7 linked regions of the Homo sapiens genome follow. The protein of the gene in region 3 purifies or fractionates together with the protein of the main gene of each other region. This does not show direct contact. Each region holds a gene or a part of one and is shown on either strand. Other genes may lie near its edges.

Region 1 (3,898 bases), on a different chromosome or scaffold from region 3:
AACCTGCAAATGTATAAAACAACCTTAATACATTGGTGTGCTTTGTTGGTGCATTATTGTATAGCATCAAAAAATTTGGAAACAACCCTAGTGTCCGAGCAACGAAAGATTCATTGAATAAATAATGGCATATCCACATACTGGAGTAGTATTCAATGTTTAAAAAAGAATCAGGAAGATCTCTATGAACTAAAATAGAAAGATCTACAGAGGGTACATTATTAGGTTTAACAAATCAAAATGCAGAGAATATATATCGTATACCTCCTATTGTATAAGAAAGAAAAGAAATAATATGTATTTATATTTGGATAAAGAATCAGTGAAAAATAAGAAACTAATAAAAATGGTAACCTATAGGGGGCCAGGGGAGATGGGTGGATGGGTACAGTGGTAGGAGCAAGACTGCTTAGCATATATCTTTTATATCAGTTTGAGTTTTTAGCCATATTTAAACAATTTAGGTAAATTTTATATTATGTAGTTTTTACCACAATAACTTTTTTTAACTTTTTATTATAGAAAATTTTAAACATATGTAAATACAAAGAATGGAAAATGAACTCCCATATACCCGTTGCCTAGTTTCAACAATTATCAACATATAGCTAGTCTTGTTTCATCCATATCTCTACCCACTTTCTATCTTCTCCCACTCTCAACTGGATTATTTTGAACCAAATGTTAAAACATCATATCATTTCATCCATATATACTTTAAAACATAAGGGCTTTTTTTTAACATGACACCATATAATTATCACAGCTAAAACTTTAATAATAATTCTTTAATAACCAAATATTATTTTAATTTCCCCAATTGTCTCATAAATGTTATAATTGATTTTTTCGAAATAGTATCTAAATAAGGTCCACTGGTTGTATTTGGTTTCTTAAGTATCTTTTAATCTTAGGTTCTCCCTTTTTGGTTGTTTTTTTTCCAACCTCCTAGCACTTTATTTGTAGAAGAAGATGGCTGTTTGTCTTGTACAGTTTCCTATATTCTGGATTTGCTGATTGTCTCCCTGTATTGTCTTTTAAACTTGTTTCTCTGAATTCTAAATCTTCTCTGAAGTGATAATTAAATATAGTGGTCTGAAAGATGCAAGTTTTTTTGTCTTTATTTTTCCACCCAGTATTATGCATATAATATGATACCTGGCTGTGTGTCTCTTTGTGATGTTAAGGAGCTATCAGCCTTATCCATCCATGATAAAGTTCTTCAGAAGTTTACCAAAGAAGATTTCAAGATTAAATTTTAAATTGGATGCTGCAAGATTTTATGAAAAAGTTAAAAGGAAAGCTAAAAAGAGAAATAAGAGAGCAAACTATATATGTATGCTTTATATGTGTCAGTGTGCAAGGAATTGTGCAAGACTATATGAGAGATGTATGTACATCAAAGATGATATTTGATAGAAGATATGCAAAACTTTGTATGTGAGACAGAAGGAAACAGTCCTAAAGGAAAGACACTCTCAAAACTTCATTCCCTAACAAAGCGAATTGTAGCTTTGAACCATGTCTCTTTAATTAGAGTTGCTGTTGATATGAATAATCAAAGGTCTTGATCATGCTATTATTGGCTTTGATGCAATAAATAGAATGGTAATATTTTTGTGAGATGGGAGGTTGTATAGTAAAACACTTGTGTTCCGAGGCTGAACAGTTTGCTGAGGCGCTGTAAGATTATTGTGAAGGGCATAAATACTTAGTAACTTTGCCCCCTACCCCAATTTAGAATTTCTGTAAGAGAAAGAAAAGTAGTGTTAAAGGAAGAAAAAAAGCTATGCTCGACTGGGTTGTAGTGATTGGATTATGCAATATTGATTTACTGTCATAAATTGTGCACAACCAGATTTTGCTGACTGTTGTAAGTTGAGCTTATAACGTGTCAGAAATCCAAATCTGTTTTATTTCTAATATGTGAGTAGAATTTAAATTAATTCAACAGCAATGGCCTCTGTGTTCTTTTCAGTAATGAGAAGTATCATTTACATCACCACTCTGTTCTTTGGATAAATAAATTTTTTAAAAAATAAGGATTGTAATAGCCAGTGATCCAAGGCCACTAACCCTAAGTGGTTCTTATTGCCCGTCCTCTATCTCCCATGGCTCTCATTTCAGGAAACAACTACTTGGTACTAAGTTCTTTCCTTTTACTATTCATTTTGCATTTCAGCTGTTTCCTTCCATTTCCATGTGTTTAATCCACCTTTCCCAGGCTATAGTATCACCTATATTTGATTTATTCTAGGCTTCAGCTTCCCTATTTCTATTTTCTTATTCTTCTTATTTCTTTACTATTCAGACAGAAATGTGTATTGTAGATATAGAATTAATGCATACCCCAAAAGGTACCCAAGAAGCTTGCCATTTTCTCTTCTAGCACAAGGCTTGAGTGCCATGCTAGGCTTTTGGGTTTTTGCTACGATGAGGCTTAAATCCACTCTCTGCTTCTACTCTGAAATATTCCTGAGCTGTTATGTTAACCTTAGAAGACACAGCTACATTGGAAGTTAAGTCCACTGACTGTAATATACTTGATGGGCACTTAGTTGTTCAATTATTCAGTATTGTTCAATATTCAATAAAAACATGGGACCAAATTTTGAGAAGTTAGATGAATAGCTGGAATCTGATGATGAGGATGGATTGATAAAAGAACAAGTAGATGGAAGAAGTTGGAAGGAAAGTAGGTTTGTAGGTGAAGGCAGCAAAAATCAGTTAATTTTCAGTAAAATAGTGTAACTTAGTTGCACTTAAATATTACACATCTACACCAGAAAGATACATTCTATTCACCTCTTCATTATTATTTATCACAGGGATTATGATCAAGAACAGTTTGCTGATAACCAAATACCACTGTTGGTAATAGGGACTAAACTGGACCAGATTCATGAAACAAAGCGCCATGAAGTTTTAACTAGGACTGCTTTCCTGGCTGAGGATTTCAATCCAGAAGAAATTAATTTGGTATGTATTTTCACTAATGCATGCTTGTATTATTATCGGGTAAAGACAAAACTGAAGACATATTCAAATAATATATTCTAGTGAAAGAAGCTTTATACTTGAAATCAGGCTATTTGGATTCTAGTCTAAACGTAGTCAAGATTGGAATCAACATATCTAGACTGAGAGATGTGCACAGTCACTTCAGCCTTTTATGTTGGTCTGTTGGAATGTTCCAACTTTATTCTATGAATAATTTAAATCATAGGCTTCTTTTTTTGAAACAGAGTCTCGCTCTGTCGCCCAGACTGGAGTGCAGTGGCGCGTTCTCAGCTCACTGCAGCCTCTACCTCCTGGGTTCAAGCGATTCTCATGCTTAGGCCACCTGAGTAGCTGGGATTACAGGCATGTACCACCATGTCCAGCTAATTTTTTAAATATTTTTAGTAGAGATGGGGTTTTGCCATGTTGCCCAGGCTAGTCTTGAACTCTTGACTGGATTTGCCCTCCTTGGCCTCCCAAAGTGCTGGGATTACAGGCGCGAGCCACTGCACCTGGCCCATGGGCTTTTTCTTGAGAAAGGTTTTTAAAATCACACCAAAATTAAAATAAATTGATTAAAGTGGCACTATAAGCATATTATTCTTGCTTTTAAAAAGCCTCTTAGCTTCTTAAACTACAAATTTTACCTTAAAGGGCAACGTAACAAATACATGAAAAAATTGCAAACCTTAAACTAGGAGTGCTTCATAAGGACTAATTTATGTACACTTATGCATATATAGAGGATTGAGTCCCTTGATGAGATAACTAGCTCAATGAGAACTGAGCGCGTAAAAAAGCTAAGAAATGGTTGTCATGTAAGCCTGTTAGGATCCCAGAAAAAGATCCTGGCCAGCAATTTCAGTCATGGTCATGTTGTTCACAAATAGGATTTCTG
Region 2 (4,156 bases), on a different chromosome or scaffold from region 3:
GAGAACACAGCACCACCTCTGTGGTCCTCCTGTCAAAAACGCACACATCACAGGGACACTTCAGACCAACCAAAACTGAAGCACATTCAGACTACCTGACCGGTACCCTGCAAGACTGTCTCAATCATAAAAGACAGACTGGGAACTGTTTCTGACGGTAGTGAACTCGAGACAAGACAGCCAAAGGCAACTGGTGTCACCCCAGACAAAATTGGACATTGTGACTGCAAAGGACATTACTGGGCCGCTGGAGCGAGCTTGCTGGTTTGAGGGTGACCTGCATCCACGTTTCTGACGCCTATGCTGCGAGCTGTAAAGAGGGCCTCTGTTTCCAGGAAACACCACAGGAGCAAGGGGGTAACGGAACACGTCTGTAACTTACTGTCAAAGGGTTCAGAAAACAATGAGTGACATGCAAGCACACCAGAGGATGCAAATGCAAATGTAGAGAAATGTTCAGTGGAGAATGTGGGCGAAAGAGAAATAGGAGCTCTTCACGCCACAGAGCTTGAAAGTATTCCACAGTGGAGACTCCAGAGACAAATCCACCAAAGGCAGTGTGTGGTCGGTGTTTGTACAGACCAACACACAAAATGAGGTAGACAGGAAGACAGCAGCCTTCACAGTAAAACCGCTTTCACTAGAGAAAATAAGGATGTATTCTAACACTGCCATTTAGCCAAAAGTAAGTTTGTTCTTTCTGCTTCCTAAGAGCAAAAACAGGAATCACACATGTATATATTTTATCAATTTTATTGAAATATTCCAAGGATCCCAACCCCATTTAAAAATAAAAATTGTAAAGCACTCCATTCAATAAAAGCACATAAGTCCCCCTCAATAATTAGTATGACAATTCACGATACAGCTCTTACTCTGGGAGAGTTTATTTTACCCTTTATTCCAAAAGGCACAAAGTCATCTGAGGCCTCAGATATTAACCCCACTGCATGTTAATGACACACCACTGAGGTGCAGCTCAATGTAATTATTAAAGCTTATAACACACTTCCCCAAGAATTTATAGATTCTTTCTATAAATAATAATTTAAAAAATACTGCACCTTAAGACCAATACAGGCTTAACAAAAGACCTGAAATTTCTGCAAGGGCAGTTTTGTTTCTTGATAGAAGTACAACTTTTGAAAGTCTATTCCCAGCAAAAGAAACACTAGACCCAGCTTGGCCAAAGAAACAAAATAAAACAAGTGATTTCTAACACGCTAAAAGAGTACATTTTCATCAGCTCCAAAGAAAGCAGTCCTGGTCATTCAGAAGGCTCCTATGATCCCACCAGTCTGCAGTCATTAGAAATATATGCTTTACAGGCCACAGGCTGCTCTGGATTTGGTTTCAGACACCAGTGACCAGAAGAAGCCAGTTTTGCGTGTGAGGGGTGTGGGCCCCCGCTGCCTTGGGCCTGCTCACCGGGGTGGATGGACCCCCGCCGGGTCACAGCCTGCTGTCACGTCTGGACTGTTGGCCTCTTCTGCATCTGGGCTGTTGGGCTCTCCTGCTCTCTGTCCCTCAGTCACGTCATTGTCTGGCTGTCCGGTGCTGGCTGCACTCTCATTTGTGAGGATAACCCCTTCCTTCTTCTTTTCTCCCAATACCTCCAGCCCCATCATCCTGAGATAATGAAGCCGTTCATTCTTGGGCACAAAAGTTCGAATGGAGGCCTTTCCCCGCCATCCGCATAAGACGATGGGACACTGCAGAGCGTCTGGATTCCTACAAGTGAAAGTGGCTTCATGTAGAACATTAAACATTCCCATAACTAAATCGAATGAGATGTAATATGCAACTGCTTAAAAAAGAAAACCACAGAAAACCCATACCCACAAAACCCCCAAAACTACTGGGAGGACATTTCATCTGGATCCGAGGGGTAGGTTTTCTCAAAGGACTTCCTTCTTCATGTCCTGAGTAAAATTCTCACCCTCGCTTTCGCCCTGCCTCTTTAAGTTCACAATGGAGTAGAGGCCCCAAATCTACAGATTTCACATACACTTTCTACATACTTCCTTCTCAAACTTAACTTACTGTCCCCGCCACCCCGTGTCACCTCACCCCACTAAATGAGAAGCGTTTCTCCACAGGCTCCCTGCAGCTCACCTCAAGTTTCCTAAGTGGACTGAAGCTCCTGAGAGGCTGGGAGACTCTGCCCTTAGCAGGGCGTCAGAGCAGGACCCAGGACCACCGGGAGACTCTGCCCTTAGCAGGGCTGCCAGAGCAGAACCCAGGACCACTCATCCTTTTGATACTCAGTGTTAGCGTGATTTCTTCTCCAGGGACCCCACATGGCAGTCTGAGCCCTGCTGGGCACACAGTGCTCATTTCCGTTCCCAGCATGCAGTGTTACCCACAGTCAAAAACATCCCTGCCTCTCTGAACATGCTCCGAGCCTCCCTACCTTCCAGGCTCCACCTGTCCAGCCAGGAGGCATCGACGCCCCAGCAGAGATGGACGCCACCATTTCCAACCTGCACACGCCCTCTCTCAACTTATCTGATTTCTTTCATACGGGACTCTGACCTAGATTTTAGGCTCCTAACGGCCGTGTTTAATCACCTTTCCATTTTTCCTAATGTAAAGCAGGGGCACAAAGGTGGTTTTAAGAAGTGAGAGGAAAATATAAGAAATTCCCAACTCCCATCTTCTTAAAAAAAAAAAACCATTATTCCTGAAGTTGACCTGTCACCTGTGTATTTCACCAAGTAGAAACAAGTGTTTAAATATGGAAAAGTGAATCCACACCTTAAAATATCCCAATATTTTCTATGTGGGCCACATGGGACTGTTATTTTAAAAACCATTTCTGAGTCTTTGTTCAAACTCTCGTTAAAAACACCCAGAAGCCATCAATCACTAGATGCTCCTGCCCGTTCACCATCCAGACACCATCCGCCTCCAGCAGGTCCCCAGGGTGCTCATGCGCTCGGCCTCGCTGACCTCTCCAGCCCATCCATCTGTTGTTCCCTCACCAAGTTCCTGCCCCTCCCACCTCAGCCCCCACCTGTCCTCTCTCCACATGGCAGCCGGACAGCCTGAACCCTGAGGACATGTGGCCCCTCGGCCTCCCTGCCAACCTCTTACCTATCCCTCCTCCTTCCCTACTTGGCTGGGCCCGCCCCGACCCCCAGCTTGCACCTGCCTCAGGATCTGCGCTTTGGTGGTTCCTTCAAGTTAGCACTGGATCCCTGGTCCAACACTAACTTCCCAAAGAAATCTGTACAGTGGTTCTACCTATTCACTCCCCCAAATCCCAGTCAGCCGTGGACCCCATTCTGTTTCCTCCTCTCAGAAATGGTGTTGCATGTCACCAAGACGGAGCTGTTGCAGGTGAGATCCGAATTCTGCCACTCGTGAGCTGAGGAGCTCTGGGCAAGCCACCTAACTTTCTGTCCCGGCTTCCTCCTCTGGCAAGTGCTGCCAAAACCAGCACCTGCTCCCCCAAGGCCCCCCACAAGGATGCAGCGTGAATACATGCAAGCAGCGTGGAGCAGTGGTCCCGTGGGGACCGTGAGTGCAAGCGTGAGCAAATCCCATGCTCCGGCCCTAGCACTCCTGATGCAGTAACATGTCAGCAACACACATGGCTGAACCAGCCATGAGGACAAAAGAACGGAACCTCACTCAACTGTCCAATCTTCACACTTACTCTGTACAAGACAGAAATTTTCATTGGTTTCTAATGCTTAAAAAATAAGTACTATGCATTTTATTCTCTGTAAGTAAAAATTCACTTAGCCTGAGCTGAGTGTTCTATGAAACAGCATCTTCATGATGACCTACAGGAATATTTTGGTTCTGAAGTTTTCACAAGGCTACTTCTGAGGAACAATCACAAAAGGCCTGAAGAAGGTTCCCACCTTCCCAAGTCACTTTCCTCACCAACGAGAACACTGTAGCTAATGACAAGGCGTGTGTGTCTAAGGGCAGGGCGTGTACTGACTTACGCAGAATCTGGTTCATACTTCAGCACGATGCTTCCCTTTGCTGGAAAAGAAACAGACACACATTTGCCAGGTTTTCCAGGTAGTGGATGCATGCGCTGAGCACATTTCTGCACCTAGTGATGTGTTAAGTATTCTGAAGAAAGAAAACAACAAATAATCTACATTCTTGGCTTCAAGGATCTAGATGGTGAAAAGAG
Region 3 (4,350 bases):
GGGGAGCTATTTTAAACAGGTTTTATGAAAATGTAAACAGAACAATGACTTCTCTGAAAACCATGAGGCTCACTTTCCTGGACCACATCTCCTTGAATGGCACAGGGTACATCAGAGCGAGCAGCTGCAGGGTCGCTGGGGACAACACAGGCTTGGCATTGGGCTCCAGCCCCTGGATCTTGTTGACACAGGGGCTTCTCATTTTAGGAAATAATACTGAAACGGATGCACCATGACAGACACTCAAAGGCTAGCTTCTTTCTGAATTAGGATGGCCACTTGGCTGGTGGCATATATGGAAACACTTTTATTTGCTTTTGGTTCCTAAGACACTTGGGCAGACTGCCCGCCGCTGCTGCTGCCATTGCTGGCCAACAGCCCCTTTGATTGCATCTTTTTTTTTTTTTTTTGCCGGGGTGGGAGAGGGTGGAATCTAACTCTGTCACCCAGGCTGGAATGCAGTGGTGAGATCACAGCTCACTGCAGCCTCGACCTCCTGGGTTCAAGCAATCCTCCCACCTCAGCCTGCAGAGTAGCTGGGACTACTGATGTGTGCCACCCCGATGAACTAATTTTTAAATTTTGTGTACAGACAGGGTCTTGCTATGTTGCCTAGGCTGGTCTCGAACTCCTGGGCTCAAGTGATCCTCCCACCTCGGCCTCCCAAAGTGCTGGGATTCCATGTGTGAGCCACTGTGCCTAGCCTGATTACAAAAACCAAAACGGACTAAATTTGTAATTTTTAAAAAAGGATGTCCTAACCCTAACTTTCACTTTTTTCTAGTGGAAGTCTCACACTGTGTCCTTCCCACTCTCGCATTTTCATAATGCTGGTCATGGGACCCTTATCAATCCTAATCATTCTTAAAATAATAATGACCTCAGAAGAGCCAAATTTTCTAAAGATGGGGGAGAGGCATCGACGATACCTCCAGGTGCCCAGCGACTCCCTGGAGGCGGTGGTCCTGGCAGTTCCAGTCCAGATCTAAAAATTCTCAACAGGACAATTTATCTACCAGGTGGACAGAGAGAGAAAGTGTTTCCAGGTCCATATATTCTTGACAAACTACCATAATCAACGCTGCCTTCCCAGCTGGACTGAGGTTGGTAAGTTGGTTTTGAAGGCTAAAACAAAAATTTTAGATGTTGAAAAAACTACCTTACATACAAAGGAGACTTAACAACCTAAACCATTGTAAAAAATAACCAACTCTTGTGAAATCTGCCATTTGAAGTAAAACTGCCATTTGAAGAAGACTCTACCCCCTCTCTCGATCCGCAGGGTGACTGGCTCCCACCCAGCCCAGGCTATGAAGACACATGTGCCTCGTCTGCGCTCCAGAGAGCATCTACTGTCACCAAGAGTTAAAACAATAAAACATCATATCTTTAAAAGCAACATAACAAAAGATACGGGAGCTGCCAAATGGGGCCCGGAGGAACACTGACAAGTAAGGTGTCAGTCTGTCCCTAAGAACACCACCATTCCCACAGACAGCTGGACTGGGTGGGTTCAGGTTGACTGGACGGAGCTGAGTGGAGCAGGAAGCTGGCGGGCTTCGGGAGCTTGTCTCGTCCCGCTTACCACGGGTGCTAGCTTATGACAGTCCAGAGCGGGGGTCTTGAGACTCTGTTTTCTGGGCTCTTCTACGCAAACCTGGAAATGGGCCTTTCCACATATTAGTTACAACCACGAAAACAGTGAGCCAAAAACAAAACAACAGCTGCATTTTGATAGCTTATCTAACAGATTTTTTTTTTGTTTGTTTGTTTTTAAGACAGAGTCTCGTTCTGTCACCAGGCTGGAGTGCAGTGGTGCAGTCTTAGCTCACTGCAACCTCCAACTCCCTGGTTCAAGCAATTCTCCTGCCTCAGCTTCCCGAGTAGCTGGGATTACAGGCATGTGCCACCACACCCGGCTAATTTTTGTATTTTTAGTAGAGACAGGGTTTCACCATGTTGGCCAGGATGGTCTCGATCTGCTGACCTTGTGATCCACCCGCCTCGGCCTCCCAAAGTGCTGGGATTACAAGTATGAGCGACTGTGCCTGGCCCAAACAGTTCTTTAAAATTCTCCATCCTATGATTAAAAAGCAGCATGTTGTCTTTCTTTAGATTCAGGAAACAGAAGTGAAGTCTTTGAAATAAATATTTTGCTGCTTTTTACATACTTCACCTTTGGATACATCTAGACTTATAGGATTATAAACATTGTTAAAAAGTGCTGATTAGTTTTCAGAATTATAAAGGAGCACAATAGTCAAAAGCGGGGTGAATGGGAAGACAGGCCACGAATTTTGAGGTTACCAGTTAATTAAATGGTAAATCACGAATGTGATCTAAAGCAATGTGCATTGATTAACATCGGGTGAGTTAAAATCAGACCATTGAGCATAATTCGCCGTAATCTTCCCAGTCCTGAGATTAGCCACCTACCCCCAGCATTTGAGTTCTATGCTCTTAGAAGTACTGGTTAAAACAAAGATATGGAATAATATGCCGGTTACCTACAGCTCAGACTGTCCAAGCTCTAAGGTTAAAGTGGTGGATATTTGTGCAAAATCGTGCTGCTCCCCCGTCTCCTTTGTAGTGCTGTCAGCTTCAGAACTCCTGGAAAAGGTGTGGCTGATCTGAAGGAACTCAGTACATGTCCCTGTAGATCTCCTGCAGTAGCGGGTGCAGCGCAGCATCCGACTCCGTCTTCTTGATGATCTGCACCAGCTGCGCATGCTCCGTCACCAGCTGCCGGAGGTCTGCCATTTTTTGAAGAAGTTTTGGGAAGAGAAAGATATCGTCCGGGTGGTTGCTCTGCAGGTGGAGTCTGAGCACATGTACAATACCCTCCTGCATTTTTTCAATGTGTCCTACGTTTAGAAGGCCAGGACGATCTAGTCTCGAAAGAAGAGAGAGAGGTTTGAGTGTGATAATCACCCAAGAACTGCTTATCAGTTTCAGGAACCAAACATGCCTATTTTATGTGGCCTTTCTTAGAAAAAAACTGAGCTGCCTTTAGATATTGTCAACTTGACTGGAAGATAGACATAGGTTTTTCCAAAGTCAATAGGTGAAGTAGGGACAGACAGGACCAGTACTCTTTCCTAAATATTCATACTACTAGGCGGCAATAGTGCCCTAAGTACACCTTATGGTGCGGCCTTTTCACTTGTGATTTACCTGATGACCACCTGTCAGGGAGAAAAATTAGAGCTAGTAGGAGGAACAGTACATTCTGGAGATCACAACCACCAGTTTTGCATAATATGGGAAATGAAGCTTTTGAATCCAAACTAGATATCAAGCTTCAAGTGTTCCACCATATTTAAGGAGTGATTGTGTTAGAACTAGGTTTTGTAGGCCAGGCACGGTGGCTCACGCCTGTAATCCCAGATACTCGGGAGGCTGAGGTGGGAGAATCGCTTGAACCTGGGAGACGGAGATTGCAGTGAGCCAAGATCAGGAGACCCAGAGTGGGGAGGAGGGTGGGGCAGGTCTGAGACTTGGTGCAGGAAGAGTCAACATTCACACCAGATGACCTGCCTGGGGTAGCTGGCACTAGACATCCTGGGACAGTCTCAAAGCATGAGACCTGATTCTTGGTCCAGAAAATACTGCCCTGAGCCATGTTCAGCAGGCGGTGCTCCCTTACAGACCCAGTCATTACTATGATTCTTAACAGGGTTGCTAGTGATGAGGATTTAAACATCTTCATTGTTTTTGGTTGTAAATGTAATTATTAAGTTTTTATTTCTAAAATTCTTGTTTTTGTATTGTTTTAGTGATGGGGTCTTGCTCTGTTGCTTAGGCTGGACTGGAACTCCTAGGCTCAAGCAATCCTCCTGCCTCGGCCTCCAGAGTGGCTGGGGCTATAACTATTAAGTCTCTAAAGAGAGGAATTATTGCCGGGTGCAGTGGCTCATGCCTGTAATCCCAGCACTTTGGGAGGCCGAGGTGGGTGGGTCACCCGGGGTCAGGAGTTTGAGACCAGCCTGGCCAATATGGTGAAACCCCATCTTTACTAAAAATACAAAAATTAGCCAGGTGTGCTGGCATGTTCCTGTAATCTCAGCTACTCAGGAGGCTGAGGCAGGCGAATCACTTGAACCCAGGAGGCGGAAGTTGCAGTGACCTGAGATCGTGCCACTGCACTCCAGCCAGGGTGACAGACGGAGACTCTGTCTCAAAAAAAAAAAAAAGGAGGAATCTTTTGAAAAATAGAAATCCCCCCTCATAATTTTAATCCCACCATAATAGGTTTAACATATATCTCACTGGACATTTTTCTATATACATAGGATTGATATAGGATTATAATTTCCTTTATAAAACTGTGATCATGCTACATATAAATAG
Region 4 (4,006 bases), on a different chromosome or scaffold from region 3:
TGGGAGGCTGAGGCAGGAGAATGGTGTGAACCCGGGAGGCGGAGCTGGCAGTGAGCTGAGATTGTGCCACTGCACTCTGGCCTGGGCAACGGAGCGAGACTCTGTCTCAAAAAAAAATACAAAAAAATTAGCCAGGCATGGTGGTGGGTGCCTGTAATCCCAGCTACTCAGGAGGCTGAGGCAGGAGAATCGCTTGAACTCAGGAGGTGGAGGTTGCAGTGAGCCGAGGTCACGCCACTGCACTCTAGCCTGGGCAACAAAGCAAGATTTGGTCTCCAAAAAAAAAAAAAAAGAAAAAAAATATACATAACCTAAGGCTTAATGTAAAAATGTAAAAACCAGTGTTTAAATTTGTAACTGATTTCCAAGGGTATAGCAAACAAGCTGACCAAGTGTTATTTAGTGTATGCTATGGTTAGATATTGGGAAAAGTATTGACTAAAATTGATACTCTGATCATTATGAAAAGCTTAACAGTCTTCATGACAAGATACATTTATACATACCCAATTTATTGAGACCTCTGCCACAAGCATTGTATTGGACATTCTTATGTTGACTTAGTAGCATCTTTGAATTCATTGGAGAGTTGTCTCTTTCTCATCCCAAGCTCCAAAGCTGAAGCTTGGAGGAGATACATTATGTGTGTACAAGTGACCCACCTTTTTGGGGAAGGGAGTGGAGGCAGGTTGGTAACTTATATGCATATTTCTGGATAACTTGATTCATGTACATATTTTTAATCCTTTAGGTACCCAGGCACTCCAGCTGATTTCAATCCTGGTTCTTTAGCATGTTCTCAGCTTCAGAATTACGATCCTGACAGAGCCCTAACAGATTATATCACTCGGCTAGAGGCACTGCAAAGACGACTTGGAACTATACAGTCAGGTGCTCTGAGTTTAACCACATCTTGGCAGCACCACAGTGCGAGACCCACAGCTCCCCTTTCTTTGAAATTCTTTCACACTCATTAGGATAATCAAAGCTTCCAGTTTAGTGCATGAGCTAATTATTAAGTTAGCCAAAGCTTAAACTCTTGTAACCAGCAGAGAAACTGACTTTAAATAATTTAAGTGAAAATATGATTTATCACCCCAGATCCCACTCCTCCCAAAAATGATTTCCTACTATGTTCATTCAGCGGACTGATGACACAAAATGCACAATGAGCACCAGTGTGCAAGGTACTCTGAGTCTACAGAGCCTAACTGGAGAACGTATTCCTAAGTAGCGCATGGCAGAAAGTGGTAAGGCCGTGCCGCAGCACTCCAGCCTGGGCAGCAGAGCGAGACCCTGTCTCAAAGAAAAAAAAAAAAAAAAGAAAGTGGTAAGGCATGCAAATCGGGTGGAGTTAAGGAGGAAGCACTTACTTTAAGCACTTAATGTAACCATTATCCCTGCTACTATATTGTGCTTTTATGTATCATCGAAAAAAACTATCCCATTTAAAATACTTTGTAAGGATTATTTTTTCTTTGTTCAAAAACAAAAAACAAGTCATACTTTAAAATAAAGGTGGATTCCCTGTTCATGGAAGGAAAACCTCTTTTCCCTATCTCACTTCAGTTCACTCCTGATTCAGAGACTTTGAATCATTGAGTAGTTTATCTCTTCCTTCAAGAAATCATTTGTTTACACCCAAGCATCTTGTAGTAATAGGAAACTTTTATTATCATAGCTGAGTTTGTTGGTTTGCCTAGGCTTGTTTTGTTTTGAGCATCCAAATTTCACAAGACCCAGATTTTGAAGACCAAAAGATTTTTCAAAAATGTATGAGGTATAGAACATCCAACTTTGAGAGCACTTTAAAAAAACTCTAAATATTAGTCTCACCTACCTTGCCATAGAGCCAGTCATGGTGATTTTTACATATATATTCAAAATCTCTTAAAAGTCAGCTTAAGTATATGGGCTGGGCGCGGTGGCTCATGCCTGTAATCCCAGCACTTTGGGCGGCCGAGGCAGGCGGATCACTAGGTCAGGAGTTCAAGACCAACCAGTTCGAGACTAGCCTGGCCAACATGGTGAAACCCCGTCTCCACTAAAAATACAAAAATTTGCTGGACATGGTGGCATGTGTGGATAGTCCCAGCTACTCAGGAGGCTGAGGCAGGAGAATCACTTGAACCCAGGAGGCGGGGGTTGCAGTGAGCCAAGATCACACCACTGAATTCCAGCCTGGGCAACAGAGTAACACTCCACCTTGGGGGTAGTGGGGAGAGACTCAGTTTAAGTATGAAGAGGACATTTTAAGGAAAAAAAGGGCTTTAAAAAAATGGAGAATAATAATAATTTCCTTTGTGTGAACTCTGGTGGGTCTGATACAGGTAGCAATGTAATTTGAAATCAGTTGAATTTCCTGTTTTTCTCTCATAGGTTCAACTACTCAATTTCATGCTGGCATGAGAAGATAATCCTTTGAAACATCATTAATTGAAGTGATTTTAAATAGATTTCCTTTTGTAAATCAATGGTTCTTTTGTGCTTTTGTATTGTGAATATTCAATGGGACCAATATGAACACAGCTTATGATTGTATACAAATCCCTTGCCAGCACATGAAAACAAACTGGAATTTGTATATATAAGCATTGTGTATGTATTCATGCACAATAATTATTGAATTACCTGTATATTTGTGGAATGCTAATTTAAAACATTAAATTATAAACCTTGTGTATTTATCAAATGGGTGAAAAGATTAAACTTTTACGCATTACAATACTGCTGAATGTGTAGCTCGAGGTGTCCTGCACTTTTCTTATAAGGCTACTGAAGTTACATGTTTTGCCTAATATATTCTACTGGTGATGAAGACAGATAATATCACTTGTAGAGACCTATTTTTGTATAATGGTAGAAGTTTTGAATTTTATGGGGTATTTTGTCAAGTACTGAAATAAAAATGACTTCACCATTTTCACCACACTGTATTTGAACCTTCTTCATTTTTAACTGAGCCATAGTTCTTGGTACATAGCATCTCATTACTTATGTCAAATATGTAGGAGTGAGAGATTCAGAGAAAGTTGTCCTAATCTTAGAGTTAATACTGTTGAAAGTTTTCCATGTGTCTTTGTATCAACTTTACATCTACATAGTGTTTTTTAAAAGCTATATTGGTATTTCATGATTAATCAGTATTTACTATATTACAGTTAGTGTTACTTGTTTCCAAAGATGTGTTCTCACAAATCCATGGCCCACTAAAAAGATGAAGAAATCATTAACTCAAAAGATCTTAATCACATTGCAGCCGAATTAAACAGTATCCCTGTTGTCCAAGCCAAATTCAGACTGGGAGGCTCTCACAGAGATAATACAGATCGCAATGTTATTTCTCATCTGGAGTCCTCCTCAATAACATGGCAACTCACTAAAACAGCAAGAGGACTAGTATTTGATGCTTACACCTGGAGGATTTTGTCTTATTATTTGATGTTCCATGATTTATACCAACACAAACAGGCATGGTAGAAAGTTGTACATGCTTGAACATTTCTAATTTCAGTCATCCCTCGGCATGTGTGGGGGATTAGTTCCAGGATCCCCCTTGGATATTACAGTCCGCGAATGCTTAAGTCTCTTATAAAACAATGTGCTATTTGCAGATAGTCTACATACATCCTCCTGTGTACTTCAAATCATCTCCAGATTATTTGATACCTAATACAATGTGAACATTATGTAAATAGTTGCTAATACTGTATTTTTTTATTGTGGGGTTTTATTTTTAGTATTTTGAACCTGCAGTTGGTTGAATCAGAGGATACAGAACCCACAAATAAAAGGAGCCAACTATACTTAAATTTTCCACATTAGAAGCTGGGTTCCAATAAGAGGAATTCTAAAAATAGCAAACGTACTCTAAAGCAGTTAGTTGAAGGGGCAGGTTGTGGGTAAAAACCTTTTTCAGCTAGCATGGCTTGCCATTCAAGGCTATTCTGCTCTAAGAGACAGTGGAGAAAAAAACAGATGGACAAATGATCTGATCAAGCTGAGT
Region 5 (4,350 bases), on a different chromosome or scaffold from region 3:
GTTGTTGCCACAGGGTAGGAATCTCATTTCTACTTTATTTTGTTTATAAAAATGAATAAATTTCATTTAGAGTTTCTTTATTTTAATGAAAATAGAGGCATTGTAGAATAACGGTTTAGACACAGGCCTTGATATAACCATGTGAGGGTGATGGCCTTTCCCAGCCGTGGTTCCTCACCTGTAAAGGGTGAGGACAGGAGCACCTGCCTCAGGGTGAGAAAGCATGGTCCTCAGTAGATGGTAGTGGTTGCCCTCAGGTTCACAGCTTACCTCTCCCAATTTAGATGAGGGAACTGTGGCCCAAAGAGTCAACATGGGGTTTTCTGGCAAAATCTCTCTTGTTTTAGTGGGTACTGTATTGATACTGATTCCTCGGGTGGGTAAGTCCTTCTTCTCCACATGATGAAAATAAGTAACTTTAATTTTATACACTGTCAGTTACTTTAACCATTTTAAAAGTTAAAAAGTGTCAGTACAGCCAAACAAAAAATCAGCAAAACTACAGGTTGGGAAGAAATATTTTCCAAACCATATGTGTAATAATATCTTACTATCTAAAATAGCAAAAAAAAAACCCTACTAAAAACAACCTACTAAACCCTACTAAAAAACAACCCTACTAAAAATGGGCAAAGGACTTGAATAGATATTTTTCTAGAGAAGACATACAAATGGCCAATTGATGTATGAAAAAATGCTCAACGTCACTAAGCACCAGAGAAATGCAAATTAAAACCCCAATGAGATATCATCTCATCTCGCTCCAGTTAGAATGACTGTTACCAAGAGGACAAAAGAGCAAGTGTTGGTGAGGATGTGGAGAAAAGGGAACCCTGTGTGCTGTTGGTGGGAATGTAAATTAGTACAACTATTACGGAAAACTCTGGAGGTTCCTCAAAATTCATAGGACTACTATGTGCTCCAGCAACCCCATTTCTGGGTGTATATCCAAAGGGCATGAAATCAGAAGCTCAAAGAGACACCTGGACCCTATGTTCATTGCAGCATTATTCACAATACCCGAGATATGGAAACAACCTAAATATGTGTTGGTGTTTAATGACAATGTGGTGTGTATACACAACTGAATATTATTCGGCTATGAAAATGAAGGAAATCCTGTCATGTGTGACAACGTGGATGAACCCAAAGTCATTATGTTAAGTGAAACGAGCCAGGCACAGAAAGACAGATACTGCATGTCACTCATGTGGAATCTAAAACAGTCACAACTCACAGAAACAGAGTAGGACAGTGGTTGCCAGGGGCTGGGGGAATGCAGACTGTGGCGATGCTGATTAAAGGTGTAACTTCCCGTTACAAGGTGAAGTTCTGAAGGTCTAATATACAACATGGTGGCTATAGTTAACATTATACAGCATGGTGGCCAGAGTTAACATTATACAGCATGGTGGCTATAGTTAACATTATACAGCATGGTGGTTAGAGTTAACATTATACAGCATGGTGGCTAGAGTTAACATTATACAGCATGGTGGCTAGAGTTAACATTATACAGCATGCTGGCTATCGTTAACATTATACAGCATGGTGGCCAGAGTTAACATTATACAGCATGGTGGCCAGAGTTAACATTATACAGCACGGTGGCTAGAGTTAATATACAGCATGGTGGCTATCGTTAATATTATACAGCATGGTGGCTAGAGTTAACATTATACAGCATGGTGGCTAGAGTTAATATTATACAGCATGGTGGCTATCGTTAATATTATAACTTGAAATTTGCGAAGATAGTAGACGTTAGGCGTCTGTATCTCCAAAAAAAGGATAATTGTATGAGGTGATAGATGTGTATTAACTTGATTGTGTCATCATTTCACAAAATAAATCATCACGCTGTACACCATAAATATATAGTTTTTTTTTTAAATTCATCAATCATACCTCAGTAAATCTGGGGGAGAAAAAAATCCATAAAAATTTTAAAATTTTCATTATAAAAGTAGTATATGCTTATTGGGGAAACCTTTTGAACAGCACAAAGCTAAAATACAAATAGGGCCAGGTGTGCAGTGGCTCACGCCTGTAATCCCGGCACTTTGGGAGGCCAAAGTGGGAGGATCACTTGAGGTCAGGAGTTCGAGACCAGCCTGGCCAACATGGTGAAACCCCATCTCTACTAAAAATACAAAAATTAACTGGGCGTGGTGGTGCACACTGTAATCCCAGCTACTCGGGAGGCTGAGGCGGAAGAATCACTTGAACCTGGGAGCCGGAGGTTGCTGTGAGCCGAGATCGCACCACTCTACTCCAGCCTGGTCAACAGAGTTAGATCCTATCTCAAAATAAATAAATAAAATACAAATGGAAGTCCTTTCTTTGATCCCAGGCTTCTATCCTACCTGTGCAGGGTAGCAGCACCAGTGGCGCGGCCCCTAGTGATATGTGTGGGGTGTGCGTGAGTAGGGGGTTGTGTGTGCACAGCACTGAGAAGACGGTGCTGGGGGCTGCCGTGTCCATTCTGTGATCTCACCAGATAGGAGGTCCAGATGTGGGCCGCTGTGTGCAGTCACTGCTCTCTATTGTTTCCAGAGGCTACGGGCGCACCTACTTCAGCTGCACGTCTGCCCACACCAGCACTGGCGACGGCACGGCCATGATCACCAGGGCAGGCCTTCCTTGCCAGGACCTAGAGTTTGTTCAGTTCCACCCTACAGGTAGGGCAGGACGCCTTGCCCGGCAGGTGTTTGGCTTGTGTGTGTCTTGTAAGCATGTGATGCCTACTCATTGCTCTTCCATAGTTTTATGTAATAACATGGTTTTGAAGATCAGCTTCCTCAGCTCTCAGGTCCTAACTTCAACGTCATTTACCTAAGGAGACTTTTCCCACACTCCCCTTCCCCTAAGGCAGTTTGGGCCACCGTCTTATGTATTTCTCAAGAGCGCTAAACCCTGCCTTGGTGATACTTAAGCCAGCAGTAAAGCAGGGATTGAGGCCGAGCACAGTGGCTCACTCCTGTAGTCCCAGCACTTTAGGAGGCCAAGGCGGGCGGATCACCTGAGGTCAGGAGTTCGAGACCAGCCTGACCAACATGGTGACACCTCGTCTCTACTAAAAATACAAAAATCAGCTGGGCGTGATGGCGTGTACCTGTAATCCCAGGTACTTGGGAGGCTGAGGTGGGAGGAATGCTTGAACCTGGGAGGCAGAGGTTGCAGTGAGCCGAGATCGCGCCACTGCACTCCAGCCTGGGCAACAGAGTAAGACTCCGTCTCAAAAAAAAAAAAAAAAAAAGTAAAGCAGGGATTGTTCAGTGTCCCTCTTCGCAACGAGGTCGTCAGCTCCTCGGGCAGGCAGGTCTTCTCGTTAGCTGTGGTGCTCCATGCCCAGCACATGGTAGGGTCTCCACCGGGGTTTACTGAGTGAACATTCTGAGAGCTGGGAGAATGCCATGGAACCGAGAAGCAGCACAGGCAGACTTCAGCTTTGTAGGAGAACACGGAGCTTCTGTGACAATGGGATGTAAAGTTAGGACGCAGCCGTGACAGAACCCCATGTGACATTGGGCGCTGGGCTCAGCCCACGTGACCACTGAGAGAGCTTGTCGTGGGGAAGATGAGCTCGTCTTGGGGACGTCTGACGGTTGAGGTTACGAATGTGCAATTCGGAGACATTAACTCAGAAATGACAGTTGAAGTCTTGAGTTTGGAGGAGGTTCTTCAGAATGAGTCAGAGACAGACACACACCTGCCTCTTGTTTGAGGTGACTTGTCCTATACTTTTCTGGGTTGCTTTTCTGACCTGTGGACGATGGAGACCTCTGAAGTGGTGCCAAAGAACCAGACCTGTGTCTTCTCTTTCTCTGTCAGTGTCAGCTTTCTGATCCCTGGAAGGGATGAAAATAAGAAATGAATTTGTTGTAGTGTTTTTTTTTTATTTGTTTCGAGATGGGGTCTTGCTCTGTTGCTCAGGCTGGAGTGCAGTGGAGCAATCTTGACTCACTGCAGCCTTTGTCTCCCAGGCTCAAACGATCCTTCCACCTCAGCCTCCCAAACAGCTGGGACTACAGGCATGTGTTACCATGCCCAGCTAATTTTCGAGGGTTTTTTCGTTTTTGGTAGAGACGGGATGTCACCGTTTTGCCCAGGCTGGTCTCAAACTCCAGGGCTTAGGCCATCCTCCTGCCTCGGCCCCTCAGGGTCCTGGGATTATAGCCATGAGCCACTGCACCCGGCCTGTTGTATTTTTTATTACTGTTTTTAATGAATAAAATGTCACTGAGCCCCTGAATTCCCTCTGTAATTTGCTTAGAGCTCCACTGCTCATGCTTTGTCTTCAGTATGTGAGAAGTAACCACAGAAAAAAGAGCATTGAAACTTAGAAAA
Region 6 (4,350 bases), on a different chromosome or scaffold from region 3:
AGAGAGAGAACTTTCCAACCACACTACCTGCGTTTTTGAAAGGCTGACATGGCTCTTGGTTCTCAAATCAGCCTCAAAATAGCCTGAAAAGCCTGGAGTCCACTCACAGAAGAGCAGACCTCCTCCGGTATGCACCATGCTGACAGCACCACCTTACACACTCAGGTGTGCAAAAACCGGCGCGGGGGACATCTCACACCTTATGTAGATCAAATGCTCCTTCCCTGATCCTCTGTAGGGAACTTCCTTTTCTCTAATCCTAGATCTTTTCAAAAATTCTAACCAAAATAAAATTTAAAAAGAAGACAATGTCTTGTGTCAGCTCAGAATTAAGGGCAGATAGATAGTAAGCTCCTAGCTGTGATGTCACTAGACTCACACACCCCCATGAAGGCAGGAGCAAGTACTATCCTCCCTGGACACATGCAGACTTAGCAGAGGAAGACTCTGCAGGAAATGAGGGGCCATGCCATGATTAGGGCTCCCATGAGCCAACTCCTTGCCTGCACCTCTCACACCGGAGAAAGAACAGTAAATACTGTGTAGCTGCCTTTGGAATAAACATGTGATAGCAAGTCAGGACCCCCTTGCCACATACTGCTAGGAACACAGAACACTCACCTGTACAATCCTCTCAAACATATGAGCCAGAGGGAGGTAGGATATGGCCACATCATCAGGAGTGGGCTCATAAGCATGCTATGTAGGCCAGGGAAGTAAGAGGAGGCAACATGAGATTAATGCCAACTTTCAATTCCAATGGAGATTTTAAAACTACCTCCTCCCAGGACTACCACAGACAGCTGTATAGGCGGTACACTGTGTAGATCTGAGATGCCTTGAACTGCATATAGTGTAGAAATTTGCAGTGATCCTAAAAGACCAACGCTTGAAAATGTACAGTCCTCTAAACAAAGAACACGCTGGTGTTTGTCCACACTCCAGCCTTTAACGTGTGTGTGTGTGTGTGTGTATGTGTGTGTGTGTGTCTGCCTGCTCTAACCTCAAAAATAAAAATCTTATGACAGATTCACATTTTAATGAGAGCCTCTTTTTCAACTGACCACTGACCTCCACACATTTGAGAAAGGCAGCAGCATTTGAAACAATATTTTGATGGGTTATCATGGCTCCTTTGGGGTCACCTGTAGGAAATAAGAGGTGGAGAGAAAGATACTTTATGTAGCTAATAGGTAGCCTTTGGCCTTGAAAGAAACTAGATTCAATTGGTTTTATTCCAGAAGGCCAAGAGCATTTCCTGTCACTGTGTCTTTTTGTGGATGGTATATGCCTCTGTTTAGGAATAATTAATGCCCCCGGAGATTCTACTGCTGAATGCATCGTTGGCCTTCTACTACTATGCAGAGCACAGCCATGATTTCAGATAGAAGCACAGCTGCAAAGAAAAATTCAAGTTAACCCTCCTTGTCCCTCTGCCCCACATCTCATGCTGTTTATATGTTTGGAATTCCAGATCTACCAATATTATATAGTGATATGGTTATAAACCTTATAAACTGGGCATACTAGAAAGAATATAACTGTAGACCATGATGGACCACATTAAAAACTATTAAGCATTCTAACAGATGGGTGGATGTAGGGTGGGGTTGAAGCCCTTTATGGAGAACTATCACTGAGTTATCTTGATTGAATGAAACCATTCCAGCGGTGTCAAATCAAGAGAGTGGTGGGTTGGTGGGGGCGGGGGAAAGGACTTTCTGACATCATCTTTAAGACCCCTGAAATCTATTGAATATAAACACCTCCCAATATATTAAATAAAGTGTATTTACTTATGTTTATGTTTTTCCATTTGGGAATTCACACTTAGAAGCCTTAGGCTGTGAGCCCCTAAGTATAGGGCTCTTTAGAGGGAGTATTTACCAGCCTACCAGTGGCCAAGAATTGAAGCCATGTTCTTGGCTGACCAGGGGTCTAAGGTTCAGTTTCATGGGCACAGACCTGTGGTCCCACTGGTGAAGCAGATGACGCTCAGGTCTTCTGGGCTAGGAGGCTGGAGGAGGAAGCACAAGGGCTTATTCCACCATGAACTTTGAGAGTTGACTATGGCAAGGCTCAAATTCAGGCAGAAGAAAACTTACCACAGGTTTTCTGAAGTGCTCTTTGCCTAGGTTCTATGTGAATGGAAAACCAAGAAAGAAAGACATTAGTTGAGATGGACAGACTGTGATAAATGTGGCCCTCTCCCTCCCTTTCCCGTGAGAACATCTCTATGGGAATATAAGCAAAATTCCAACCTGGATCAGGACCAGAAGCCAACATTCAGGAACAATGGAAGCCCCAGGGAAGAGCATAAGATTTCTCTAGAAAATCATCTACCTATAGAGGGTAGATTGCATGTTCAAACTTCCCATTGTACTCTTAAGTTTCAGTCATCTAGGGCCCTAACTAAATCTTTTTTGAAAGAAATGAATAGCTAACATTTTCAGAGCTTATTACATATCCATCACTGTCCTGAGAAATCTACATATATGAATTAAGCTAACTCTTTACAAGACCTCTGTGAGGTAGTGATTATTTTTATCACCATTTTACGGACCGAGAGAAGGGAGATGAGATTGCCCAAGGTTGCCTAACAGATGTGGAGCTGGCATGCGAACCCAAGCAGCCTGGCTCCAGGAGCCACATCCTTTAACTATTACTAAACCCCTATTTATATATTATCCACTTAGAAGTCCATACAGCTGGCCACAGAACTTTGTCCTCTCCTGGCATGAGTTTCAAAGTTGTCTTGTGGAAATTATTCTCAGAGCTTCACAGCATGAGTCTAATCTACTCCTCACGTGCCACCCCTGGAGAACAAGAACACTGTCCTCTTGGGAAGGTATCTTGCAAGTTGCCCAAGGTGTTGGACAAGCATTGGAGCTGCAAGCTAAATTTCAGATCCATACCTCAGCATCATATAGGGATAAGATCTCAATTCCACTCTTCTCCCCTCTTTGCTTCAGGTCATCATCAAAGGGGTCCATAAGGATGATCACCTTCAGGCTCGGGGTGAAGCCTTTCTCTACATTCCCTATCAGCACCAATGCCTTTTGGGGTGTGTCACAGATCACCATGGCGATATCAGCTGGAAGCCAAAATAGAACCAGAGGTCATTCCCTCTCTCTGCTAAGTACCTGATTGCCTTGCAAGAAGGAAGAGGTTTTAAAAGTTTTCAAAGCTAACAGGTGTCCAAAGGAGATTACACCTGCAAATCAGATTTATAATGTACAACCTGAAACATTCCATTGATGATAAATGAACTTAACTGAAACAGAAGCACATGTTCTTGAACTGTGCCAGCAGATTTTACAGTTTCTAGAGGAACCACAGAATTCCTTCTGCTTAAGAAGTCATTCAGATAACCTAAACAGGTTACTGAGGTGTGGTTCTATCACTGTTTTATTTGAGGAGGATAGTAGGGAATAGAAGAAAAAGAAGGGGGCAAATAGGATTTTTAGCTGACAAGTATTTTACAATTCTAAATTTTAGCATTTGCTTTGATGCATGTTTAAAGTTTCAAATGATGTTTACTGTGCAAATGGACTTACTCACTTAATCTACTAGTCCCATGACAGAAGGTAACATGTTGGATATGTGAAAGGGCTGTTACTTGCCCATCAAATTTGGACTTGTTTCTCTAACAACGACAATTATTTTCTGCAGACTCACCATGGACATTGGTACATGCTGGTTAACTGTATTGACTTGGATTTACAAAGGTAGGAAATTAAATCTGTAGCTTTACTGTGATTAAGTCAATTAAGCTCACTCTCTGGGCTTTTATCTAGTGTGTTCAGAGTGAGTAGTCTTGTCTCTATATCATCATACCATGTCACCCTGACGCATGTCATTGAAACTTCTTTCTGTGTGTATCTCTGCTTCATGGGCTTTTTGTAGCTTTCCTGAAAATTATATCCTAAGTACTACAAAACTAGAAAGACTTGAACATTTTCCGACCACAGCATTTCAAGTTTGCTTAAACAAACAAACAAATAAACAAAAAAGCAGAAATTGAAGAAATACTCAGCATTGAGAAAGAATCAAGTTGTAATGTAACAGCAAAATTTTACCCTTGTTGACAATATGTACGATGGCTTCTGGTCCCAAGGTGTCATACAGAGGTACAGCTACCATAGAGTACGTGTAACAAGCCAATTCGGAGATGATCCACTGTACAGAGAGAAGTTCAAGTAAGGACTGGAGGGCACACTGAAGAGTACCAGTTCAGTCATTCAGCCAACAAATGCTGTCTGGTTTTTTGTCTTGTTTTGTTTTGCTTTTTTTTTTTTTTTTGAGACAGTGCCTCACTCTGCTGCCCAGGCTGGAGTGCAGTGGTGTGAT
Region 7 (4,350 bases), on a different chromosome or scaffold from region 3:
TTCATCTGTTTGACTTGTACCCAGAAGTTTCAAATTATGTTTAAGTTCATGGGTAATTTGACTTCTTTTTGTCTAAATGAATAGAAATTATTTTATCGTGTACAGTGGACCAATGAATCACAACGTTCTCCAGTCTCAGGCAAGCTGGTGACTTTCTGCTCTTTTCCCACAGCGGGACGACCCTGGGACAGTCTCCACTGGGGCAGATCCAGCTGACCATCCGGCACAGCTCGCAGAGAAACAAGCTTATCGTGGTCGTGCATGCCTGCAGGTGGGGGCTGGGGTCCCACGCGCCCGCTGCTGTGCTGCTGAGTGTGGATGCTGGATAGGATGATGTAGACACCGCCTTTAGGATTTCCAAACATCCATTTATGTTTCATTTAGAAAGGACAAAGCAATTAAACCTCTAGAGACGGTGCTCGTAAAGGGTGTCACCACTGCGTATGTCACATGACAACGTTTTGGTCACCGAAGTACAACGGTCCCCTAAGATCATACTGTATTTTTACTGTACCTTTTATGTGTTTAAATACACAAATATGGCTTGGCATGGTGGCTCACGCCTGTAATCCCAGCACTTTGGGAGGCTGAGGTGGGCAGATCACCTGAGGTCTGGAGTTCGAGACCAGCCTGACCAAAATGGAGAAACCCTGTCTCTACTAAAAATACAAACTAGCCACGTGTGGTGGTGCATGCCTGTAATCCCAGCTACTAGGGAGGCTGATGCAGGAGAATCACTTGAACCCAGGAGGCAGAGGTTGCTGTGAGCCAAGATCGTGCCATTGCACTCCAGCCTGGGCAACAAGAGCGAAACTTTGTCTCAAAAAGAAAAAAAAATACACAAATATGTCACAATTGCCTACAGTATTCAGCACAGTAGCATACTGTACAAATGTGTAGCCTAGAGCAGGAAGAGTGTGTGTGTGTGTGTGTGTGTGTGTGTGTGTGTCTGTGTGTGTGTGTGTATTTTTTTTTTTTTTTGGAGACAGAGTTTTACTTTGTCCCCCAGGCTGGAGTGCAGTGGCACAATCTCATCTTACTGCAACTTCCGCTTCTTGGGTTCAAGCAATTCTCCTGCCTCAGCCACCCGAGTAGGTGGGATTACAGGCGTGCACTACCTCGTCCGACTAACTTGTATTTTTAGTAGACACGGGGTTTCACCATGTTGGCCAGGCCTCCTGAGTAGCTGGGACTATAGGTGGAAGCCACCAGGCCTGGCTAATTTTTAATTTTTTTATGGAGACGCTGGTCTCTAATTCCTGGCCTCCCAAAGCACTGGGATTATAGACTTGAGCCACCATGACTGGCCTAATCAGGAAGAATTTATTTTAACTTGTTTGTTATATTAATAAGTATAAAGTCAGGTGACTGTTGCATTAATTGCATTTGTTAACAATGATACTGTGGGCTTACGAACTATTTTCCTTTTATGCAATTTTCTCTGTCCTATTAGTGGTTTAAAATATGATATAAAAATTTGGTGCTTATAAATAGCTGTTGGAAACATAGGAAAATAAAATTAGCACCATTTAGAAAGATGATAAAAATGTAGAGTTCAGTACATCACTCTTGAGAAGTTCATATATTCTTGCCACTTAGATAATGATCGTGGGGGATACTGTTGTAGAGGAGTCTAGCAAAACAATCCCTCCTAGACTTTGTGGTCAGTCAGCAAGCGAAGAATGTGGGGGCCTGTGCAGCTGGGCACCTGACCGCGTTTGCTGCAAAGGAGCAGCCCCCTTCTGGAGGGGTAGGCACTGTGGGGTGGGGGCCTGGCTTTCTTGGCTGTGAGAGAGAAAATGGCAGAAGCATTATGGAAAGACAACCGTCACTCTGTTACAAGCAGAGACCAAGGACTTGGAACGTCCTCCAAACTCTGGGCTTGAGAAATGAAGGCCGAAGTCGCTGCTGAGAAAGCCACTAAGAAAGGAGTTTGGGAGATGCCACCAGGCAGCCGTCGGGGGAGGCAAAAGCGCCTCACGCATTCTGTTCCTTGTTGCTTCTCGGTTTGTAGATAAACATGAAATCAAAGCTTGATAAAGCATATCTGAATGTGCTGCTCATTCTCTTTTTCTCGGTCCTAATACCTCGTCTTATCTGGTTTGTGTTGTAAGAAACCTCATTGCCTTCTCTGAAGACGGCTCTGACCCCTATGTCCGCATGTATTTATTACCAGACAAGAGGCGGTCAGGAAGGAGGAAAACACACGTGTCAAAGAAAACATTAAATCCAGTGTTTGATCAAAGGTACGGTATTTTATCCAGCTGAGGATAGACTGCCCGGTTGAAGTGACGGATTAAGAAGGCCCTAAATGGTGCCTTTGAGTGGCCAAAGCACATAAATCAGCTGTTGAGAAGTTCAATCAGAAACCAACTTTTAGCAAACATACTTCTCAAAACAAATAAGCATTTTGACCTTCATGTAGAAGCTCTAAATACAGTAAATTCAAGTTACAACCCTGTGGACATGTAGACTAGTGATTAAATAAAGATCAGGTTACTGATGGCCCTGAAGAACTCATTTTTGGGGGTTATATCTGTTGACACTTAACTATGTTATCAATTAAAACTGAGAATTTAAGGATACATATATTTTTAATTTTATTTTTAAATAACAGTAAGCCCCAAACATCTTACCGTATGACATATTGGAAAAACAACTGTATTTCCAAAAATAAAAAACATAATGAAAAGAATGGTATTATTGTTCAGCATTTTTGCTCATCTCTTTAGTGGTCTGGCTCAAGAGGGGCTGGAGCCTGCTTCTGTGGTCAGGGTGATTTGGTGACCTCCTAGGAGGGTCTCAGAGACACCCCCAGGGGTCATTGGCCCCCACTTTTAAAGAGCTGCTAATCTGTACCATTTTGGTATCTTAGGTGATTGTCCCCTAGTGCTTCAAAACCCACCCTTGTTTTGGGAAATGATAATAATACAGTTGTATGGTGTCGCTATCTGCTAATTCAGTTTACGTTTCATCTTTAAACATCCTCCTCATTCATTGTACTTTCATACAAGTAGCTTTATGTAAAACACCCATCAGAAACTGGCAGGCGTGCATCAGCCCGATGAGGTTGTGCAGGGTGCTCCTACCCATCCGAGGCATTTAAGCGTCTGGAGACTCCACTTGCCCCCCAGCACGGTGGCCTGGGGCAGGCACCCGCAGCCCGGAGGAGAGACGCCCTGCAGGCACTTTAGTGCAGCGTCTGGCTGAGCATCGGGAGTGCTTTGGAGGCCTTCTCCCTCCTGCGAAGCTGCAAGCACATACTTTTTTTTATTGGAGATGGTGGGAATAGGGCCTGAAGACTAAACCAGACTGAGTGGAAAGCCTGAGTGAGTGGGCTGCTCTGGAATTGCTGTTTTGTCAACATTATCCCACATTTTAATCCCCTGGAAGAGTCAGACATGTTGAGAGACGCTCCTCACCCACCCGTGAGTGAGCCAGGGACCTTGGGACCCAGACATCTATGGGATGCCAGAGCCTTCTTTTATGTGTGGGAAATGAAAAAAATGTTGGTTTTTGAGTCTTCCTGAAATGCCAGATTAAAACATTAGGTAGAAGAACTCAGTTTTATAATAAAAAACAAACATGACATTTGGAATGATCTCATGAGCAGAAATGCCATTTTTAGTTATAAGAAAATACAGCAGAATGATGGATAAAGTAAGGCTCTCGTTTCCTATTTCAGCTTTGATTTCAGTGTTTCGTTACCAGAAGTGCAGAGGAGAACGCTCGACGTTGCCGTGAAGAACAGTGGCGGCTTCCTGTCCAAAGACAAAGGGCTCCTTGGCAAAGTAAGTGCCAAACGAATCCTCAACCAGTTCCTGCAGTTTGTAAAATTGAACATTTACCTGCAGTGCAGTGTTTAGACCATGTCTGTGTAAGTGGAAGGGGCGAACTTACGAGGTCGATGCTTGTTTATAAATCATGGGCTATAAAGACAGTCAAAACATCTGTGCTTTCTGAAGATATTTTAAGTTAAGTCTTCACATTTTTGTTCAAGTATCACATTGAAGGAAAATAATCTCTTACAATTCCATCTCCTCAACTGATGGCTCTGCTCTTTTTCTAAAATTCTTTGGCTTTATTTATGTGAATTTCTTCTACTCTTTGTCCGTATTTCACATTTCACTTTGGCATGTGAGTGTATGTTATTTAGGAATGAGAGTAGGTTCAGTTGGGGAGGAAGAGATTTGAGTCACGGGCATCATTTCGTCAGCTGTGCTGCCATGGAGGGCACATGGGCCAACCCTTCTGTGAGTCATCTCCGCTGATATTCCGTCATAGCTGAATTTTAAGACTGCTGGTTGCATGAAGGATTTCTTAGATGTATTCAGCGATGTAGCTTACAGG

What was found.
Region 1: the proteins of PPARA (region 3) and RABL3 purify together in Homo sapiens (co-immunoprecipitation; one large-scale study listed by IntAct). This does not show direct contact.
Region 2: the proteins of PPARA (region 3) and NSUN2 purify together in Homo sapiens (co-immunoprecipitation; one large-scale study listed by IntAct). This does not show direct contact.
Region 4: the proteins of PPARA (region 3) and AKAP9 purify together in Homo sapiens (co-immunoprecipitation; one large-scale study listed by IntAct). This does not show direct contact.
Region 5: the proteins of PPARA (region 3) and SDHA purify together in Homo sapiens (co-immunoprecipitation; one large-scale study listed by IntAct). This does not show direct contact.
Region 6: the proteins of PPARA (region 3) and ACSL5 purify together in Homo sapiens (co-immunoprecipitation; one large-scale study listed by IntAct). This does not show direct contact.
Region 7: the proteins of PPARA (region 3) and ESYT2 purify together in Homo sapiens (co-immunoprecipitation; one large-scale study listed by IntAct). This does not show direct contact.

The regions. Positions count from the first base shown.
Region 1 is NC_000003.12:120,697,504-120,701,401, reverse strand, and holds part of RABL3 (rab-like protein 3), read left to right. Parts: intron 1-2,828; coding exon 2,829-2,979; intron 2,980-3,898. UniProt on the Homo sapiens protein: Required for KRAS signaling regulation and modulation of cell proliferation. Regulator of KRAS prenylation, and probably prenylation of other small GTPases. Required for lymphocyte development and function. Not required for myeloid cell development.
Region 2 is NC_000005.10:6,598,502-6,602,657, forward strand, and holds the end of NSUN2 (RNA cytosine C(5)-methyltransferase NSUN2), read right to left. Parts: intron 4,000-4,156; coding exon 3,960-3,999; intron 1,732-3,959; coding exon 1,425-1,731; 3' UTR 738-1,424; downstream 1-737. UniProt on the Homo sapiens protein: RNA cytosine C(5)-methyltransferase that methylates cytosine to 5-methylcytosine (m5C) in various RNAs, such as tRNAs, mRNAs and some long non-coding RNAs (lncRNAs).
Region 3 is NC_000022.11:46,233,671-46,238,020, reverse strand, and holds part of PPARA (peroxisome proliferator-activated receptor alpha), read right to left. Parts: intron 2,889-4,350; coding exon 2,641-2,888; 3' UTR 1-2,640. UniProt on the Homo sapiens protein: Ligand-activated transcription factor. Key regulator of lipid metabolism. Activated by the endogenous ligand 1-palmitoyl-2-oleoyl-sn-glycerol-3-phosphocholine (16:0/18:1-GPC). Activated by oleylethanolamide, a naturally occurring lipid that regulates satiety.
Region 4 is NC_000007.14:92,107,743-92,111,748, forward strand, and holds the end of AKAP9 (A-kinase anchor protein 9), read left to right. Parts: intron 1-751; coding exon 752-891; intron 892-2,379; coding exon 2,380-2,417; 3' UTR 2,418-2,931; downstream 2,932-4,006. UniProt on the Homo sapiens protein: Scaffolding protein that assembles several protein kinases and phosphatases on the centrosome and Golgi apparatus. Required to maintain the integrity of the Golgi apparatus. Required for microtubule nucleation at the cis-side of the Golgi apparatus.
Region 5 is NC_000005.10:228,320-232,669, forward strand, and holds part of SDHA (succinate dehydrogenase [ubiquinone] flavoprotein subunit, mitochondrial), read left to right. Parts: coding exon 1-14; intron 15-2,556; coding exon 2,557-2,681; intron 2,682-4,350. UniProt on the Homo sapiens protein: Flavoprotein (FP) subunit of succinate dehydrogenase (SDH) that is involved in complex II of the mitochondrial electron transport chain and is responsible for transferring electrons from succinate to ubiquinone (coenzyme Q).
Region 6 is NC_000010.11:112,408,251-112,412,600, reverse strand, and holds part of ACSL5 (long-chain-fatty-acid--CoA ligase 5), read right to left. Parts: intron 4,180-4,350; coding exon 4,080-4,179; intron 3,095-4,079; coding exon 2,916-3,094; intron 2,139-2,915; coding exon 2,106-2,138; intron 2,018-2,105; coding exon 1,966-2,017; intron 1,146-1,965; coding exon 1,072-1,145; intron 700-1,071; coding exon 622-699; intron 1-621. UniProt on the Homo sapiens protein: Catalyzes the conversion of long-chain fatty acids to their active form acyl-CoAs for both synthesis of cellular lipids, and degradation via beta-oxidation.
Region 7 is NC_000007.14:158,734,944-158,739,293, reverse strand, and holds part of ESYT2 (extended synaptotagmin-2), read left to right. Parts: intron 1-172; coding exon 173-271; intron 272-2,114; coding exon 2,115-2,246; intron 2,247-3,685; coding exon 3,686-3,791; intron 3,792-4,350. UniProt on the Homo sapiens protein: Tethers the endoplasmic reticulum to the cell membrane and promotes the formation of appositions between the endoplasmic reticulum and the cell membrane. Binds glycerophospholipids in a barrel-like domain and may play a role in cellular lipid transport.